Regions from separate parts of the Homo sapiens genome. Here regions 1, 3 and 4 are each reported to be linked to region 2. The links are microRNA targets in miRTarBase. Many come from high-throughput screens and were not tested one by one. Region 2 holds a microRNA gene; each other region holds the end of a gene's coding sequence.

Evidence for each region. The annotated mature microRNA hsa-miR-196a-5p reads UAGGUAGUUUCAUGUUGUUGGG and lies in region 2 at 2,473-2,494, shown strand. An mRNA with a match to its seed (bases 2 to 7 or 8) in the 3' UTR can be bound and repressed. Matches are read on the target gene's strand: a 7mer-m8 pairs with bases 2 to 8, a 7mer-A1 pairs with bases 2 to 7 and ends in A, and an 8mer does both.
Region 1: miRTarBase lists NRXN1 as a target of hsa-miR-196a-5p. Seed matches in the 3' UTR shown: 7mer-A1 at 1,191-1,197.
Region 3: the mRNA of SCN11A is a reported target of hsa-miR-196a-5p. The part of its 3' UTR that is shown has no 7-base or 8-base seed match.
Region 4: the mRNA of PROSER3 is a reported target of hsa-miR-196a-5p. The part of its 3' UTR that is shown has no 7-base or 8-base seed match.

What each region holds. Positions count from the first base shown.
Region 1 is chr2:49,917,686-49,922,757 of GRCh38, reverse strand. NRXN1 (neurexin 1) reads left to right here. Exons shown (of 23, transcript NM_001330078.2): 23 at 507-4,255. The coding sequence ends at 814. Among named protein-coding and RNA genes, the nearest start is that of FSHR, 770 kb to the right of the region's middle.
Region 2 is chr12:53,989,290-53,994,361 of GRCh38, forward strand. MIR196A2 (microRNA 196a-2) reads left to right here and starts at 2,449; the gene lies at 2,449-2,558. HOXC10 (homeobox C10) reads left to right here. Exons shown (of 2, transcript NM_017409.4): 2 at 1-990. The coding sequence ends at 157.
Region 3 is chr3:38,842,773-38,847,844 of GRCh38, forward strand. SCN11A (sodium voltage-gated channel alpha subunit 11) reads right to left here. Exons shown (of 30, transcript NM_001349253.2): 30 at 2,992-4,970. The coding sequence ends at 3,922. Among named protein-coding and RNA genes, the nearest start is that of SCN10A, 29 kb to the left of the region's middle.
Region 4 is chr19:35,768,114-35,773,134 of GRCh38, reverse strand. PROSER3 (proline and serine rich 3) reads right to left here. Exons shown (of 11, transcript NM_001367856.1): 10 at 4,899-4,980; 11 at 1,969-4,731. The coding sequence ends at 4,590. Among named protein-coding and RNA genes, the nearest start is that of ARHGAP33, 4.9 kb to the left of the region's middle.

The sequences.
Region 1 (5,072 bases), not on the chromosome of region 2:
ATCTTATTGTTCAATACTGTATTCTTTAAAATACAAGGGGAATATGATTTCTAAAGTAATCCTAAATTTAGTTGTCCTGATTCAGTCTAGAGTTAGACCTATGTTCTAGAGCAACACCTATTTGATTCTTATGATTCCCTCTAGTATTATAGGGTAGGGCTGTTCTGCTTTTCTTTATGCTGGGTTTGTGGGTTTTTTTTACTTAAGTCACCCACATGGCCCTTTAGAGCTAATTGGAGTTTATTTGGGACAATGCTTACCAAACTCTGTGAACAAAATTGATTTGTGAAGAAAGAAGACACAGCAACAAATCTCCCAGAGAACTTTAAATCACAGTCCCTAGTTTTTAGTAACCATGAGGCAAAGGGATGGCTACATTTATCAATAGCATACCTTTCCTAAAGCATAGGTGCTGTTAGAATTAGATAATAAATGTTAATATAGCTCTCTGGTATTCAGTGAACTCAATGATCACTTTGTGTTTGTTCTCATCCTCTTTTCTATAGCCAACCCAACCCGAGCAGGCGGCAGAGAGCCGTATCCAGGCTCAGCAGAAGTGATCCGGGAGTCCAGCAGCACCACGGGTATGGTCGTTGGGATAGTAGCCGCTGCCGCCCTGTGCATCCTTATCCTCCTCTATGCCATGTACAAGTACAGAAACCGGGATGAAGGCTCATACCATGTGGACGAGAGTCGAAACTACATCAGTAACTCAGCACAGTCCAATGGGGCTGTTGTAAAGGAGAAACAACCCAGCAGTGCGAAAAGCTCCAACAAAAATAAGAAAAACAAGGATAAAGAGTATTATGTCTGATCCCAAGATCTTAAATGGACACTTGTATAGAAATAGTCTTCATTTTATCTGAGACATAATATAAACTTATTTACTTTCCTTTTTATGAAGCACATACAAAAGAAGACAGGGAATGCAATCAGGAAGGAAAGACTTTTTAAAAAATAAAAACAAGTATCTCATGCTCTTGTTTCTCAAAAAAGAAAAACAAAAAACAAAAAACAGGGGCCAATAAATTCCCTAACATCCACAGTGTTTTCATTTACTCTGCTTGTCTTTATGTTGCTGGAACATTTCTAAAAGACAGTGATGACCGCACGCATTCATAAAGCAAAGGAGTACTACAGCATCAAGGCACAACACAAAAACCAACACAAAACATAACACAAAAAAGAAGCTACCTATGATCCTGGATTTAGCCAAAGTGCTAGCGCTTTCCTGAGAAGTCAGTCCAATTGCCAGAGAAGACTGTCCTTTTGAGTGACTCAACCTGCAAACCTTTAAGAGTTTGCCGCCTGGTGCAACTGGAGCAGTGGTTGGAACTTGCATTTGAAACAAAGTGCTGGCTTTTTTGAAGACTTGTGTAGGAACACATTCAAAAAGCCCCTTTCTGGTTGTGAGAGAGGAAAAAAAAGTATGGAGGCCTTATTTTCAAAAATGTGAAATATAAGGCACGTTTTCACACAAAATTTCAAAACAAAAACAAGAGGGCATAGATGCAATCATTGGGAAATTTTCATGCACGCTTATTATGTTATTACATATGTTTATATAAAATCCATCTCTGTGTGCTTTCTGGACTGTGATAAGTGACGTTTTATAGCCTGTTGTATAGAAAATGCAAAATATATCTCTGCTCTTCAGCCATTTTTGGTAAATTCAATGTTATAAGTGTTGCTAAGTATAGGGAGTTTTATGACATCAGAGCAACAATTATTTCAGTTGGGTTTTTCTTTTTTTTTGCCACCATTATAAATTGCCACAATTACTTTTATTTTTTAAAGAAATTACAGTGTAGTGTTTATTCTAAGGAAGATATGTATGAATGTATATACAAAGACTCAGCTACTTCTTTTCTTATATGTACAGCCTTCATTCTGTTGCAATTAAGTTTTAGTACTTGTATGAAAGGTGTGAATTAGAAAGTCACATATATACATATGTATCTTATAATCTTTTCTCCCTGAAATACTCACATTCCCACATACATTCACTATTTTCACACACACACACACACACACACACACACACACACACACACACACACGAATCCACAGCAATCCATCAGATATGCTGGAAGATCCAAACGTGCATACAGTAGCAAATATTTATTGACAAATTGAAAAGCAGGAAGGAAGAGGGTTGTGCCAAGGTATTGATGACAAATGGGGTGATTTGCTTCATTGAGATCTTGCTCCCAGGTAACCTTAAGAAGATTTTAGTCCCTAAAGAAATGAACCTTTCCTTATCAAATAGAATATCACTGATATACTGCTGCATGAATAAGAACCATTATGTGGGCAGGTTATGGAAGCAAAATTGGTTAATCTACACCTTAACTCTGGCTGCTGCAATTGAAAACTTTCTTTCTAATAAAATAATATATATATCTCTGAATCTGATGTGCATGATGAACATTTCTGGAAAGTAAACACTTTCTCTCGACTAAGAAAGTATTTTTCAGTAATTTTTGATTCTGTATTACTACCCACTTAAAAAATCATTCTCTGTTAATTATTGACTATGTTTTAACTTTTCTGGTTTTACATATATATCATTAAATATAGTTTTAGTTTAACACATTAAGTAGTGGAAAAGTATAGATTATACACTTGTTTTGCATATTATTCAATGATGTTCACAGCAATAAATTACTAATATGAGAAGGTAGTGCAAAAAATGCATTATTACATTGCAAGTTGATGTTTCAGGAAAAATTGGTTGCATTACTTGAATACCTTCTAAAAGAACGATAAAAAATTTTGTAGAAGAGAAGAATATCTTTCCAATTAGCTTTAATCAGCAAAGGCAAAAAATGCAAAACATCTTTTGTGATACTTTAGTTGATGAAAAAAAAGCCAAGAAGTGGCCTGGATTTCAGACATACAGCACCTTAGAAATATGTATAATTCATAGCAAATCACCACTATCTATGGTTGCCAAGTAATTGTTGTGTACAAAGAAATTTAGTGGCTTTTTATGACCCAGAAAGTAGAAGGTATAAAATGAAAATTTAATATCCATTGCTTCTTTTCTAGATTTTCATTTTTTTTAATTTGCCACATTAAATAATTCACGAGTCTTTTCTTTTCCCCCGTCTCATTCAGTCTTACTCAGGGAAAGCCAGTTAAATAAGAAGGGAAGTGTAAAACTACTAATTTACAGCTTGAAGGGTTTTTTTTTTTAAGATTGCTTTTCTATTTTATCTATTAAGCTTGAACCAGTTTCCATCTGGAAAGATTCTAAAATATAATAGAAAATAAATTGAATAATGGTAATTTTAAGCAGTATATCTATGAAATGTGTTGTTTGGGATTGATTTCAATGTTTCTCCCCAGCGTAAATTTTAAAGTTACATGCAATGATTGATATAGTTTATTATCAGCAAAATTATTTCTAATATTATTGGCTTACACAAACTCTAGCAAAAATTATTTTTTCCTCAATGGAAAAAGAAAAGAGAGGAACAGAGTTAGAAAGAGAAAATGACTTGAATCCCAAGTATCTTCATACCAAACATATCAGGGTTCCCTGCATAGTTTGCAGTTGATTGAGGATTTCACACGACTTGGCATAAATTTGATTACATCTCTAGACTGTAACTTTTCTGATTGATTATGCTTCTTTTTTATCCATGTAATGTGTTGCCTTTTTTAAAAGAACAAATACTACAATAACGTGTGAAGTGGTCAATCCCTAAGACATCAAAGAAAGGCCACATAACCCTACCCTTCTAGTGCTTTGTGTGATTGGGTATCAAAGGGGTTTTCTTCTTCTTTTTTTGTTTGTTTGTTTTTCTGTTGCAAGGCCAATTTATCCATTATTGGAAATGCTAAGCAAGTGGAATTTACTGTTTTGTTAATAAAATATTTCTTAATACAACTGTGATTTATTGATTTTAAAAATTATATGCGGCACCATTTCGTGCTTAAGTGGGAAAGTAAAGAAGGCTGCATTTGAAGGGAAGACCCATCCTTATATTATAGAGGAAGAATGTTGACTCTCTTTTTTCTGGATTTAACTAGTCATTAAAGACCTCTATATTCATACACTTAAAGATGTAGCCATTAAATGTACTTTTGTTATATTTGTTCATCTTGATATGCCAGAAACCATAAACTCATACAGTATTAGTTGCAAACAATATTAAAATACTAATTTCATAAATATGCTTTTTCTCTATAAAAGACAATGGAATCCAAGTTAAGTAAACCTGTGATTAAATTCCAACACTATCACATACTCGTTACTATTTGCCTAATTTCTTTGACTCTCACATTGTGTTATTTATTTGGAAAAAAACAAACAAATCTAAATATATAAAAGAACGTAGTGTTTGTTTCCATAAAACTGTATTTATTTCTTACAAAGAAAATTAGCTTTTTAGAAATCAGATGATTTATCAGAGTAAGTAAGTTTTAGTTCAACAGTTGGAAACTGTTGTTTTAAAACCCTGGCACTTGAAAATGATTTTATGATGAAAATGCACTTTTTTTCTTCAACAGTAAAAAGTCTGAACATGAATGCTTAATTCGTTTTGTTCCTGCAGTGTCTAGATATATTTGTTATTTCTTTATTGCTATTAATTCATGACAATCCACATTTTGTTAATGTCTAAATTAAAGGATATATAATTTAGTTTCCCTTAAAAATAGGTAGGCACTTCAAAGGCGGTTGCTATATAAAACTTAGTAATCAGACCAAGGATTTTGGGTCTTAACCTATAGAGGGCATAGATGCCCAGGGCCCAGTGATTAGGCATCAGGGGTTACTAACTTATATGTACAATAATAGAGATAGATAAATGTAAATATATATGTAAAAGATATATATGTATATATAATGGATAGATATATTAATGTAAATATATATAATTGCTATTATATATATATTTAAAATTAATATTTTAATATAAGTATTAAATATTTAACATAAAATAATTATATATAGTATATATTTATACATAAAATAACTTGGCAGGTATATGTAAATGAGCATTTTCCCGATAAAAGTGTTCATTAGGTTCATCAAATCCTCAAAGGGTTTCAAAGTTTCCCAA
Region 2 (5,072 bases):
GTATTTGACGCGAGAGCGCCGCCTGGAGATTAGCAAGACCATTAACCTTACAGACAGACAAGTCAAAATCTGGTTTCAAAATCGCAGAATGAAACTCAAGAAAATGAACCGAGAGAATCGGATCCGGGAACTGACCTCCAATTTTAATTTCACCTGAGAGCGCGGCCTCTCCTCCTCCCTTCCCGCTCCTTCCTCTCCCCGCCCCTCCTCCCTTTGTGCCTGGTGATATATTTTTTTTTCCTCCCTGAGTATAAATGCAATGCGACTGCAAAAAAGGCAAAGACCTCAGACTCTCCTTCCAAGGGACCTGTGGTTCGTGCTGCGAAGATGCTTCCACTTAAAGCATGAGAAATGGGGTGCCGGGATGTGGGGTGTGGTGTGTGCCCTCATAGATGGGGGTGGGAGTGTGGCTGGTGTGTGTGTCAAGCCCTCACTCACCCACGCACTCACACACAGCATTCTGTTCTCCATGCAAAGTTAAGATCGAATCCATCCGCTTGTAGGGGAAAAAAAGGAAAAAAATTAACCAGAGAGGGTCTGTAATCTCGCAGAGCACAGGCAGAATCGTTCCTTCCTTGCTGCATTTCCTCCTTAGACTAATAGACGTTTTGGAAAGTTCGGCTAGTGTTCGTGTGTTTGTCGTAGCACCCAGAGCCTCCACCAAACCCTCTCCATGTCTTTACCTCCCAGTCGCTCTAAGAATCTGCTTGAAGTCTCGTATTTGTACTGCTTTCTGCTTTTCTCCCACCCCTCCTAGCACCCCCACATCCCCCATCTAGTAACATCTCAGAAATTTCATCCAGAGGAACAAAAAAATTAAAAATAGAACATAGCAAAGCAAAGACAGAATGCCCCCCCCCCCAAATATTGTCCTGTCCCTGTCTGGGAGTTGTGTTATTTAAAGATATTCTGTATGTTGTATCTTTTGCATGTAGCTTCCTTAATGGAGAAAAAAAAACCTAATAAATTTCCAGAATCATAATCCTCAAATGGATGGTTTTTTGTTTTTAGTGATTTTTAGCAACACCCCTCCCCCGAAGAGGCTGAGTGTGTGGATGTGTGTGTTTTGTGTTTGACTCATCTCCTAGAGCCTTTCTAGAACGTCTCTTGGCGGGTTTAATGTAAGTGAGAGACCATAACGTTGATTTAAATATTATCCAGGTGACCACAATAAGTCAAGGTCATAAAACAGTAATGTCAGGACGGTCTTGGTGCGCGCGAGAGGTGGATTTTATGATCTGCAAATATAATGTGGTGCTGCAGTAAAAGATGCATTTAAAGGTGACTGGAGGAGGGAAAGAGGCAGAGAGCAAGCTGCAATCTTGAGGAGCAGACGGATCTGATTGCCTGGGGTGCTGGGCTGGGCGCACCCCACTGCTGCTGGGGGTCACCCCAAGAGCCCCCCACCCATCCAAGGAAAGGAATAAACTTAACCGCTGGAGGGGCATGAGGAGCTCAGCCCCCCCAACCTCGACAGCAGCTAACAGAAACGCCAGGAGCAGCAGGAGGAGGAGGCAGCGACAAGGTAAGAGAAGCGGTTTCTTGTTCTTCTCTTGGCGGCGGAGTGGGGATGAGCGGTGTCCCCAGGTGTCCGGCGTGCAGCGGACAGAGCCTGGAGGAAGGTGTTTAGGGCATCCGTGCTTGCCGAGAACCCAGGCTTTCCTAGTGGCCGCTGGCAGCGGAGGGCAGCGACTGGGAGCTCCCTCTCCTTCCCTCCCGGGCCCATTGCCATGGGGGTTCCACAGTTAAAGGGATAAATTGATGGTTTTTGGCTTCTTTATCTTTTCGGGCACTTTGGGTCTCCTCGAAGTCGACACTCTGGTCTAGGTGTTGCTCAGTCTGGTCGTCTGTTGGTGGGGGAGGAGGAGTACAGAGGGTTGAAGCTTGAAGCTTAGGTTTTCCTGCTTTTCGCTGGTTTGGATGTGAGCCTCGTCCAGCCTCTTGTTCCCTGTGCTCCCTGGCTGTAACGTTTTGCCAGGCAAGTGGCCTGATTGGAAGTGGCTCCAGAGCACAGGGCTATGATTCAGCTACCCACATTCGCTGAGAAGCCTAAACCGAGCTGAGAGGGAGAGGATCAGAGGGAGTCTAGCAGGAGAGTGCAGGAGAGCCAGATGGACAAGACAGGGGACCCAGCTCCAGAGTGGAAGGAAGATCCAGCTTCCCCCAGGGCCAGGGCCAGATGCAGGGGAATAGCTCCACTGCGGTGCTGGGGGTGGGGCAGGTATTTGGCCGCCAGTGGTCCCATTTCACCAGATTTTTCCTGAGCAATTTGCTTAGACCAGAAACTAATGAAGGCAGTCAGACCCCTTACCCACCCAGCAACCCAAAGTCTACTCTCTAGTCCTTAGGGAGGTTGTGGGGGCGGAAAGGGGGACGGGGCTGAATTTCTTCCTTCCCCAACCCCCTTCCCTTCTCCTCCAGATAGATGCAAAGCTGAATCTCCCGCCCTGCTCGCTCAGCTGATCTGTGGCTTAGGTAGTTTCATGTTGTTGGGATTGAGTTTTGAACTCGGCAACAAGAAACTGCCTGAGTTACATCAGTCGGTTTTCGTCGAGGGCCCCAACCCACCTCTCCCACTCCTACCCTCCCCAGTGGGACTGCCCCACTGCCCCCTCCCAGATAGGGCAAAGTGGGTGCAGACCAAGGAGGACAAGCTGTGAGTGGGGTTGCAGAACAAGTCTGGAGAACCCTGCTTTATGCCGTCCTCTCAACCTATCCCAATCCCTGTGATTAAGGGAGAGGAGTCTTTCCTGCAGCTATTGTCTCCTGGGCCCAGCTGATGGAGACAGACAAAGAGGGTCCAGCCAATTCCAAGGAAATTCAGGAGTTTGAGTAAGAGGTGGCCTGGCGGGCCAGCTCAGTTGGGCAGCAGGGTGGGGCAGAATTATTAGCAGAAAGAGGAGCACAGAAAGAGAAGACGGTCTCTGGAATGGTTAGCCTCTCCCACCTACCACCTCCAGTCGACTGGGGCTCAAGATTCTCCTTAGAAAAGTGGGGTACCTGGAGGTTCCAAGAGTTGGGGAACTCTGAGCGCCAGCCCAGCCCTTTCCCCTTCCCCTTCTATAGCTCCATCTCCAGGGGAAGGACATGTTTGGGGTGTTGGTAGGTTAGAGGAAAGCCATCAAAGTCCAAGTAGAACCCCTCACACACGCACACGCACGCAACTGGGAAACATCAGGGCAAAAACCTGACTCTGGTCTCTGTTTAGTCGTCTGTGGCCTGAAGGCCTCAGTTTCTGTGGCTGTGACTGTCAGGCAGCTGCCTGTCTTTGCACTATGTGGAAACATCTGGGTGAACAGAGGCTGCCCGTGCCCACCATTGCTATGTTGGTGGAAAGGTTGTTGGCTGATGCCAGGGGGAGGAGGGGAGGAGAATGGGGTAGAGGAAAATCTGAGCAGTGTGAAACTTTGCAAAGCTTCCTCTCATCCTTTCCCCCTTGGTTCTTCAATTCTGGCCCTGGTTGCTACAGAGAAAGTTCTCAAAAGAGGTTTCTTTGCCTGCCTGCGGGCGGAGTTGGGGGGGGGGGAATAAATGGGGGAGGGGTTATGGAGACTGAGGAGATACACCCCTGTTCTCAGAGATACTGGGGAAGAGAAGCCAAAAGAAGGTCAGGTTCTTGGTTCTCTTACTTTGAAATTATTATGATTATTAAAACATTATAAACGTCTAGACAGGGAAACAAAATTATGTCCCTGTAACAAAATATATACAGAGTTCTATATTCTCACAGTCATCTGCTGGGAGGGATATATGTGACCTTGTATGAGTGTAGGGCTCTGTTTCTGTCTCCCCTAGGCTCTCTTAAATACCCTGTATGTATTTATACGCATACACATTTATTTTTCCCCTCTCTTATGCGAACATATTTGTTTTGACTCCCAAGGAAGCTGGAGGAGAAAATGGGAATAGAATTTCCTGTCTCCCTAGCTGGATTGTTGGTCTGTCTGTCCCCCATCCCTTTGTGAGAGAAAAAATTTCTTCTCTTGGAGAGAAGTATTCAAACCTCTCTATGGCTCCCAGGGAAATGGGGAAGTTTCCAGAGAGTCAGGCCAGCTGGTGGGAAGCAGGCAAGGGATTCCCCTAGTTTGGGAGCTCCTAGCAGCCTTTGAGTCTTCAGGCTGCCCCAGGCACACAGTCAGTTGGGGCAAAGCGTGTCCCAGGCAGGGACTGGGTGCTCAGGAGCATTTGGCTTGGAGATAGAGTCCCTGATGGGCCGAAATTCACTAATGAACGACTTCTGTGCTTTGGGTCTCTGTGCCCCCATTTCCGTTTCAGAGCTGTTGGGCTTATGTGTGGGAGGTCAGAGAGCCAGGGGTTGAGGTGTCTCCTCCCCAAATGCAGAGAAATGGAGCGAGGTCTCATAGGGCCAAGGTGAGGACCAGTCTGGTGGTCAGAGTCCACCCCCGGCACAAGGCCGTGGATCATGGCTAAGGCGATGGTAATTATTTATTCCCTTCGCCGGAAGGGAGTCTTCAGAAGGAACAGCGTGAAGAGAAGAGAAAAAATTATCTCTCTCGTCTGTGGATATTAAGATGGATTTTTATTTCTTAAAGGACCCTCCCCGCCGAGAGCGCATAAGCGTAAACTTAATATATGCTCCGCAGCCCAACTCCAGAAATCGCAATAAAAGTTAAAACCTCCCCTACTGTTTTTTTTTTAATTATGATATGGGAAAGAGGAGCAGGATTTATAGAGCTGAACTCTCAGTGTATGAATGTTTGAGACTTGCGGGAGGAAGAAAAGGCAAGAGCTCGCCAAGGCGAGCCTTGGTCTCTGAGATCTCTCGTCGGCTGCTGGGGCTCCGGCTCAGCCTGGCAGATCCGCTGTGGCCTCTCTGGGACCTCGCCCCGGCCCACGGCCTGACTTCGGCTCGGAGATGCAGCCCTTCCCGAGAACAGGTGAAGAAGACGGCGGCAGCGGGGACTGGGGGCTTCGGGTGGGAACGCCAGGGCTCAGGGCTTTGTGTGGGTCGTGCAGGGGGCGAGGTTCGAAGTCCTGGGCTGGACCGCAGCACGAGTGTGGCCCGGACGGCTGCGTGGCCAGAAGGGGTGTTCGGGCAGGGTGCGAGAGCA
Region 3 (5,072 bases), not on the chromosome of region 2:
CCTTCATTCCCTGAAAACATACCCTCAGGGCAAGTCCCTTGCCTGCTTCTAGAGCTGGGTGTACTCTCTCTCTCCCATGATGTCTGCTCCTGGGGTTTCAGACATCACCTTTGCACCGAAGACTCCTGTCCACACCTTGTCCTCAAGTTCAAGTCTTGGCTGGGCATTGTCAGTTAGACCTGACATCTTAAACTTTCAAAATATTTAAAATTGAATTACATTTTAGATGTTCTTCCTCAGCCATTAAAACAAACAAACAAACTCCAACCCTTGCTCCTCCTATGCTATTAACTTAGTACCCTTTACTGTCATCTATCTTGTCCTCCCTCATGGTCAGGCAGCTGGCACAAGCATCTTGGAATCACACCGCATTGCCCTCACCTCCTTCCTGGCTCAGTGCCTCTTCCCTACCAGGATCAGACCTTGTTTTTCTCCATTCCACCTTGCACATTCTATCCAGTTATTTTTCTTCCCTGCTAAAACACCTTCAATGCCTTCTTATTATCAAAATACGCTAGAACTCCTCACTCTGGCATTTGAGGCTCTCCACAAATGTCTGTGTCTAAGATTCAGTTGCTGCTGCTCCACTCCCTATACTCCATGTCCAGTCAGTTGGGTAATTCATACTTCCTCACACTTTCTAGTTGCCATTGAGCTGCCTGTACTGTCTCCCCGACTTCAAACACCCTCCAAAACCAGGTTCACCTGTCAAAATCCTACATACCTGTCAAGCGCATCCATCTCAGATGCTCCTCTCTCAGGAGGTCTTTCTGTGAGCTTGCTTCATTCATGTCCTCAGAGCAGAGGCATGTTTCTGGTTTATTACACTTGTTATGTTGTATTGCATTATTATTGCATGGACACTCATCCAATTCTCCTGCCAAAGAGCAAATATGCTCTTGAGACTATAGTCCTATAGTCTATTTGGTTAGAAGCAGTTTACACAAAATACACTGCATTCATCCTTGGAACATGTCTGCCAGATGAATTGCACGGGGGCTGATCTACCTAGAGTAAAGAAAACTCAGAGAATAAGGGGACTGGATTCATGTGCCTGGAGGGCTGTTTGCAGTGGAAACTCAGTATGTCCCAGGGAAACAGAGCTCACACCAACATCTCTGCCTCCTGAGGGTGTCCTGGATCCTCTCGCAGTGAGCAATATTTCTAGGGATATTACTATGAGCTTTCTATCACCCATCCAGGGTTTAGATAATTCACCATATCCTGCCTGGGCTCTTCTCCCTTCAACCCTATGGCTTTCTAAGTGCCAGGCCTGTGTACAGATGATGTGCAGCCCTCTCCGAAAAGAACATGTTGGACATTTGCTGCCATCTAGTGAAGGTAGAGTGGTCCAACCTTTTGATAAAGCTAAGCAGATCTTGTTTTCTCCCTAGGAGGTGGCCCCTGGAAACCAGCCCTGGTTAAACAGAAGCATGTCAGGGTATACAGGTGTGCATGGAAGGGAGGAGGGTGAAGCCTGTTTTATTATTATTTTTATTTTGTTCCACATATTCTGAGGGTGAAGCTTCTATACAAAACAGATCACATTCAAGCTCCTGCATGGCAGTCTGGAATGGGCAAGACCATGTCCTTCCAGATCCTCCCCCTACCTCTAGCCAAAAGGTACCCTTCTTGAAATGATGACGAGCCATCTTTTTTTTTTTTTTAGAAACTTGATAGGGAATCTATAAAACACCTAAGGTTCATAATCAGAGCTTCTTTTAAAGGAGCCATAGGTTACTTCCAGTACCTCAAGGAGAATGTGGCCATGACTTTGTAACTAGTGATTTCCACAAGGCCCTCCCAGTCCTGCACAGGAGCCCTGGTAGCCCATCTCAAAGCTTCCCTGGTCCTGAGCCCACCCACTTCCCCTTCCCATCATGGCACACAGGCTCGGGCTCCACCAGGTGCATGACTGTATGCAGGTCACTCAACTTCTCTGAGCCTCAGTTTTCTCCTTTTTAAATGGGGTATATCTTCCTCATTGGGTTGGTACGAGGTACAAAAGAGATCATTCATGACAAATGCTTAGCCAGTGCCTGATGCACAGAAACCACTAAATAAATATTAGATAATGATATTATCACTATTTTTACCAATGCTTCAGAGCACAAGGCTGCCTACAAAACTCAGGCCCTTGAAATGAATACATCAAGTCATGGTAAGATCTTACACACTGAAAATAATCACCTCTCAGCCCACCACAGGATCCAGTGCTGCCATTCCCTTTGCTGGGCAGTGTGGGGCAGGTCAGAGGGCCCGACCTCAGACTCCAGGCTGCTGACAGACACATCAGTTCTTCTCACCTGTCTGAGATACAGGGTTCCAGGGCTATCTCTATGAGGTTTTCCTCCACTCCTCAATGATCACAATGTAGGTTCTTTGCCCCTCGCCCAGCCTTTTGGGGGACTGAAAGCCTAATGCCTGTTTGACCTCTTGGCATCTCCAGTTTTTAGGGAACTCCTGGGCTCCTCCTGCTCCCAAGCCCTTTTGATAGGTCTGGGTGTTTCTTTGAAACAGACATTCAGCCAAAACTGTAAATAGGGCTCATCAAATGGCTAAGATCACTGGTTAAGCAGTATGTCTATGGATCTCTCACCCCGTGCCCCACGTGTTGCTAAGAGGGTACTCTCTCTGTCCAAGGTGCCCACTGCAAATATCTTAACCAGCCAAGTGGGGCTCTCTTTTCAGTTTCAGCAAGTGATGTGCTGCAGTCAGCTTGAGCCAGCTCTCAAGAACTTATTATGAGCATCTCTTCTCAACTCCACGTCCAGTAACATGTTGATAGCTTGAAATCAGCCATAATGGGAGTACTCACACCACAGAGATTAGTGAATGCTATAAAGCATGGCTTTCTTTTTCCTGAACAGTCAGTTGTTAAACACTTGTCAGATACACCACTGGTTCTAGTCTTTAATTGCAAGCAAAGCACCACATTTAAACCACTACTCACACAACCACTGAACAAAAGGGGAATATTAGTGTACTACCTGAAAGGAACACAAACAGAAAGCTTTATTGAATTTATATATATATATATATCTGAGATGGTAGCTTGTGAAAGGGTAGTAATTGACAAGTCAAGATTGTGCCTCTAGGTTTTAAACAAACCCAAAATAATTAATGTTGGTAAAAAATGTCTGCAATAAGCTATTCATTTATTGGCAAGTTTTGAATTTTCATTTAGCATGCAAAAGAGCTACATGTGATAAACCACATACTTGCATCAGGAAAATATCAAACAAAAATGATGTATCTAGAAACATAGAAAATACAACTTAAAATTTTAATGTGTTTTTTGTTTCTTATTCTTTTTTGTTTAGATATAATTTGAACCATGTTTCTTTTCTTTTCTTTTTTGAAACAGAGTCTCACTCTGTCACCAGGCTGGAGTGCAGTGGCACGATCTTGGCTCACTGCAACCTCCGTCTCCCAGGTTTAAGCGATTCTCCTGCCTCAGCCTCCCAAGTAGCTGGGACTACAGGCGCACGCCACCATGCCCAGCTAATTTTTGTATTTTTAGTAGAGACGGAGTTTCATCATGTTGGCCAGGATGGTCTCGATCTCTTGACCTCGTGATCCACCTGCCTTGGCCTCTCAAAGTGCTGGGATTACAGGCATGAGCCACTGCGCCCGGCCTGAACTATTTCAATCCTAAAATTGGTATGTCCTTTTACAGTCCTTCCTGGTGTCTTCTTCCTTATTATAATAGTACCACTGGTTGTCAAGTAGCCTTATCTTATATCTCTGTAAGTATTATTTAAAATGAAATTGAAATATCATTTATTTTAGCCAGAAAAGAAAATGGAATGGCTAATTTGGTGAATCCACTCCCTGTTGATACACTAAGCTGCTGACCCCTGGAGCTCAGAGGCTGAAGGCAAGGCTGTGAAGCTATGAGGTAGGCGTGGAGGTGAGGGCTCAGTCACAGTGGACCTTGCCCTTGGCCACCCCAAAGCTAGACAAGTCTCCATTGCAAAGAGTCTGGAGTGGTGAATGAGGCCCGTTTTCCAAGTCATTTTGGTCACCTTGGTCACCCTTGGTCACCTTCATCATGTACTTTCGAAAGGCCTTTTGAATAATAGCAGCACCTCTTTCCTCTTCCTTTCTCTTGGTGGTGGTGACTATGGGTTCATACAACTTCTTGAGAGGATTGGCTTCCATGAACTTCTCTTCCATCATTGCTTTCATACTATCTAGGCCATCAGAGCCACCGAGTACCCTAGCGGTGAAGGCGAAAAGAATATCCATGCAGTGGAGGCGATCTTCACTCACCATGGGCAAGTCCATTACTAGAAATTGATATTTATTTGGCTTTGCGACACGCAAAGGCTCAGGCAAGGCATCAGCAAAGTCAGAAAGGGCAGAATATTTGATAAATTGTGTTGCTTCTGGGTCAAACTTTTCCCACACTTCATAAAATATGTCAAAGTCATCTTCACCCAAAGGGTCCTCACTTTCTTCAGTGGCTGTATTGAAGTTCTCTAAAATCACAGCAATGTACATGTTGACAACAATGAGAAAGGAGATGATAATGTAACTGACAAAGTAGGATGTGGCTATGCCAGGGAGGTGGCAGTTTTCTGAGGAAGAGTTACATGATTCTTTTGATCGCAGCATGGGGCTGAGCAGGGAATCCCAACCTGCTGATGTGCTTATCTGGAAGAGACAGAGCATGCTGCTGGCAAAAGTCTTGAAGTTGAATATGTCATCGATTCCAGACTCTGGATTCACTTTGGAAAACCAGTTCATACCCAGAATGGCATAGATAAACATAATCAGAAAGAGTAGAAGACCAATGTTGAACAGAGAAGGAAGCGACATCATCAGAGCAAAGAGGAGAGTCCTGATTCCTCGTGCAGCCCGGACAAGCCTCAGGATTCGGCCAATCCGAGCCAAGCGGACAATTCTGAAGAGCGTCGGAGGGAAAGGAATGTGCTCCTGATTTTCCAAGGTAGAAATCATTGTACCTCAGGAGAAGGAGAAAAGTAAATAAGTTTCCAGAAGGCACACTGGTTTCAGATCCAGCCTGTCTCCTGCCTCAGAATCCTATGGGGGCCAACTTTTTATCA
Region 4 (5,021 bases), not on the chromosome of region 2:
CATATGCGAAGTGTGACTATGCTGAAGCAGACATGCTTTGAGGAAGCCCAGGCCAATGGAGCTATGTATAGGCATTAGTCAATAGTCCCAGTCAGACTGGGAGAAGACCACGGAAGAAGTTCTGGAGGATTCTACTCCACAGCCATCAAGTCTATCAAGTCACCTTTGAGTCTTTCCAGGTGAATCCCCAGACATCATGGAGGAGACAAAAATTGTCCCCATATGAGCCCTGTCCAAACCTCTGACTCTCAGAATCCATGAGCATAATAAAATAATTGTTTTATGCCACTAAGTTTTGGGAGCGGTTATCCAACTAGAGTAATTAGGACAGCCCTTTGTTAACTAGATAATTTCTACCTGTCTCAGCTTAAGTGTAACTTCCTCAGGAATGCTTCTAGACCCCACCCGTGACCCAGCTAGATCAGGTTCTGCTACTATAGTATCTTTTATTTCTCCTTATATCTAAACAGCTATTTTTCTTGTCAATTACATTTTTTTGTTAGTTTGTTTGTTTTTGAGATGGAGTCTCACTCTGTTGCCCAGGCTGAAGTGCAGTGGCACCATCTCAACTCACTGCAGCCTCCGCCTCCCATGTTCAAGCAATTCTCCTGCCTCAGCCTCCTGAGCACCTGGGACTACAGGCACCCGCCACCAGGCCCAGCTAATTTTTAGTGGAGACAGAGTTTCACTATATTGCCCAGGCTGGTCTCTAACTCGTGACCTCAAGTGATCTGCTCGCCTTGGCCTCCCAAAGTGCTGAGATTACAGGCCTGTGCCACTGTGCCCACTCTGATTTCATTTAAATGTATGGTTTGCTTAGAAAGGTTAGAAACAGGCCGGGTGCGGTGCCTCACACCTGTAATCCCAGCACTTTGGGAGGCCGGGGCAGGTGGATCATGAGGTCAGGAGTTCGAGACCAGCCAGACCAACATGGTGAAACCCTGTCTCTACTAAAAACACACACACACACACAAATTAGCCAGGTGAGGTGGCATGCACCTATAATCTCAACTACTCGGAAAGCTGAGGAAGGAGAATCACTTGAACCTGGAAGGCAGAGGTTACAGTGAGCCGAGGTTGCACCACTACACTCCAGCCTGGGTGACAGAGCAAGACTCCATCTCAAAAAAAAAAAAAAAAAAAAAGAAAGAAAGAAAGGTTGAAAACAAATATTATATTTACCATGTGACATACAGAAGTTACTAGAAATCCATCTTATCCCTCCATTTTGTAAATGCAGATATCAAAACAACCCCAATCATATATTCTCCATCATTTTATTATGAAAAGTTTCTTTTCTGAGACGGAGTCTCGCTCTGTCACCCAGGCTGGAGTGCAGTGGCGCAATCTCGGCTCACTGCAAGCTCTGCCTCCCAGGTTCAAGTGATTCTCCTGCCTCAGCCTTCCGAGTAGCTGGGGCTACAGGCGCCCGCCACCACGCCCGGCTAATTTTTTGTATTTTTAGTAGAGACGGGGTTTCACCGTGTTAGCCAGGATGGTCTCGATCTCCTGACCTCGTGATCCGCCCGCCTTGGCCTCCCAAAGTGCTGGGATTACAGGCATGAGTCACCGCGCCCGGCCATGAAAAGTTTCTAAATTACAGCAAAGTTGAAAAATTTTACAGTGGACACCCGCATATCCGCCACTTAGATCCTACCATGAACACTTTGCTGTATTTGCTTTATCTCACATCTACCTATTACACTATTTATCCATCAATCCAACTCATCTCTGGATGCATTTCAAAATAAATTGTCGACATTGGTTTATTGTTCCCTAAATATTTCAGTGTACATACTTTTTTTTTTCTTTTCTTTTTTTTAAAGACAGGGTCTAGCTCTGTAGCCCAGGCTGGAGTGCAGTGGCATGATCTTAGTTCACTACAATACAGCCTTGAACTCCTGGGCTCAAGTAAACCTCCTGCCTCAGCGCCCCTCCCCGCCCCTAGTAATGGGACTGCAAATCGTGTGCCACCACATCTGGCTATTTATTTACTTATTTATTTTTGTAGAGACAGGTCTTGCTGTGTTGCCCAGGGTAGTCTCAAACTCCTGGCCTCAAGTGATCCTCCCGCCTTGGCCTCCCAAAGAAGTCAGATTACAGGCGTATCTTTAACTGGCGTTCAATATTTTCTTTTGAGGTAAACTTTACATACAATGAAATTCACACACTTCACTAAGTTTCATAAGTGCATACACCTGTGTAACCCAAACCCCTCCCCAGCATGGCAACTAGTTTTTTTTTTTAATGTAGCCTCTAAAGCAAGTGTCAGAGAGAGAGAGAAAGAGAGAGAAATTATCTTTTTTTTTTTTTCCACTGCAACCTCTGCCTTCTGAGTTCAAGCAATTCTCTTGCCTCAGCCTCCTGAGTAGCTGGGATTACAGGCACCCACCACCAATGCCTGGCCAATTTTTGTATTTTTAGTAGAGACATTTCACCATGTTGGCCAGGCTGGTCTTGAACCCCTGACCTCAAGTAATCTGCCCACCTGAGCCTCCCAAAGTGCTGGGATTACAGGCGTGAGCCACCATGCCCAGCTGAGAAATCATCTTTTCTAACTGCACTTTAGAAGTTAAGCTGCATCACTTCCTCTGCATTTTATTTGTTGAGGGGCCCAGTTTCAAGATGAAGGGACATAGACTCTGCCTCTTGATGGCAAGTGTGTCAAAGAATATCAGGTTTATAAAAACCGTTAAGTTTTCCAACAGTCCAGAGAGGAGGTGATGACAGCCTAGATTGAGGTGTGAGCAGTAGAAGGGGAGAAGCAGTTGAATTCTGGATAGATTTTAAAGGTGGAGGCCAGGTGCGGTGGCTCACATCTGTAATCCTAGCACTTTGGGAGGCTGAGGTGGGTGGGACACCTGAGGTTAGGAGTTCGAGACCAGCCTGGCCAACATGGTGAAACCTCGTCTCTACTAAAAATACAAAAAATTGCCAGGCATGATGGCTCATGCCTGTAATCCCAGCGCTTTGGGAGGCTGAGGCAGGAGGATCACGAGGTCATGAGTTTGAGACCAGCCTGGCCAATATGGTGAAACCCCGTCTCTACTAAAAATACAAAAATTAGCCAGGCGTGGTGGCACACGCCTGTAGTCCCAGCTACTAGGGAGGCTGAGGCAGAAGAATAGCTTGAACCTGCAAGGCAGAGGTTGCAGTGAGCCGAGATCGTGCCACTGCCCTCCAGCCTGGGGGACAGAGCAAGACTCTGTCTCAAAACAAACAAACAAACAAAGAAAATTAGCTGGGCGTGGTGGCAGGTGCCTGTAATCCCAGCTACTCAGAAGGCTGAGGCAGGAGAATCGCTTGAACCCGGGAGGTGGAGGTTGCCGTGAGCCGAGATCATGCCATTGTACTACAGCCTGGGCAACAAGGGTGAAACTCCATCTCAAAAAATAAAATAAAATAAAGGCGGAGATGGCAGGATTTCCTGGTTAACTGTGGGTGGAAGGGAAAGACAGAAGTCAAAGACAACTCTAAGGTTTTTGGTCTGAGCGGCAAAGGACAGAGCCGAAGAAAGTTGGGGAGGGGGGGCCCAGCACGGTGGCTCACGCCTGCAATCCCAGCACTTTGGGAGGCCGAGGCGGGTGGATCACGAGGTCAGGAGACCAAGACCATCCTGGCTAACACAGTGAAACCCCGTCTCTACTAAAAATACAAAAAAAATTAGCCGACCGTGGTGGCGGGCACCTGTAGTCCCAGCTACTCGGGAGGCTGAGGCAGGAGAATGGCGTGAACCCGGGAGGCGAAGCTTGCAGTGAGCCGAGATCACACTATGGCACTCCAGCCTGGGTGACAGAGCTAGACTCCATCCAAAAAAAAAAAAAAAAAGAAGCTGGGGAGAGGCACGCCTAGGGGGAAAGATTGGAAACTCCATTTAGGACCTATGGAATTTGAGATGTCTTTTAAACCCTTGGGTAGAAATGGTAATGAGGTAGGAGCCCAAGGTTTCGTGGCCAGGTCTAGGTTACAGACAGAAATTTGAGGATTATCAGAATAGAGACGGGGTTTAGAGTCATTAAGCTAGACAAGAGCACCTATGGGTGGGTGCAGATAGAGATGTCAACGCCATGGCCCTGGGTCATGCCAAAGTTGACATGCTGGGCTAGTGACTAGGCCTGACCAGAGAGGTGCAGAGAGAAGGGCTGGAAGCAGGGAGAGAAAGTGCTTCAAGGAGGGAGGGGTCAGCTGCACCAGATGCTGCTGCTGCTCAAGCATGTGTGGGCTATAGCCTGACCATCATCCAACACTCTGATGACCCTAGTAGCTTCCTCCGTGGAGGGCAGTCCTTTGGTCCATTTGAGCCAGGGCTCCTGAGTGAAGCCAGATAAGGTGGGTCCCAGTCTTGCCAGAAGTCTTGTCTGAAACTCCCTCTGCCCCAAGGAAGATATAACCAGAAAGGAGATCTTGTTTCCGTGGTCAGGAAGGGGTGGGGGGCAGGGCAGAGCCATGGGGCAGCGGAGGATGGGGGGCATTTCCTTAAATTGGCATGACCCCTTGGCCTTTCCAAACAACCCCTTTCTCACAGATAACCAGTAACTGTATGAAAAAAAAAAAAAGAGCCTCACTGGGTAAAATAGAATCTGTACAATTCAAAGTCTTCTGGCCTCCAGGGAATCTCCTTCCCTTCTTAGCAGCCTCCTTGGGGACCTAGGGGGCGACCCGGCTGGAGGGGACCAAGATCCCAGGTCTTCAGCCTGGTCCAACAGGAACGATAATCGGGCATCCGCTTCCCTGGAGAAAGGCCGGGAGAGCAGAGGCTGGGGTATGTGCTCAGGCTTAGAATCTGGGGCTGTGGACGGACTGCTGGGACAGGGGATGAGGAGGGCTGGATGCCTAACCGGGTCTCAGAGGTCTCCGGGGCCCAGTGTCATAGACTCTGGGGATGGAGGGTCGGTCACCTTTTCTGCCGACTCAGCTCTGCCCTATGGGCTCTTAGCACCTGCAGCACGGGATCGTCCTGGAACTCGCTGCCGTCGGAGTCTGGGCCGGGGAGAAAAGAATGAGCTCCAAGGGGCCGGCCT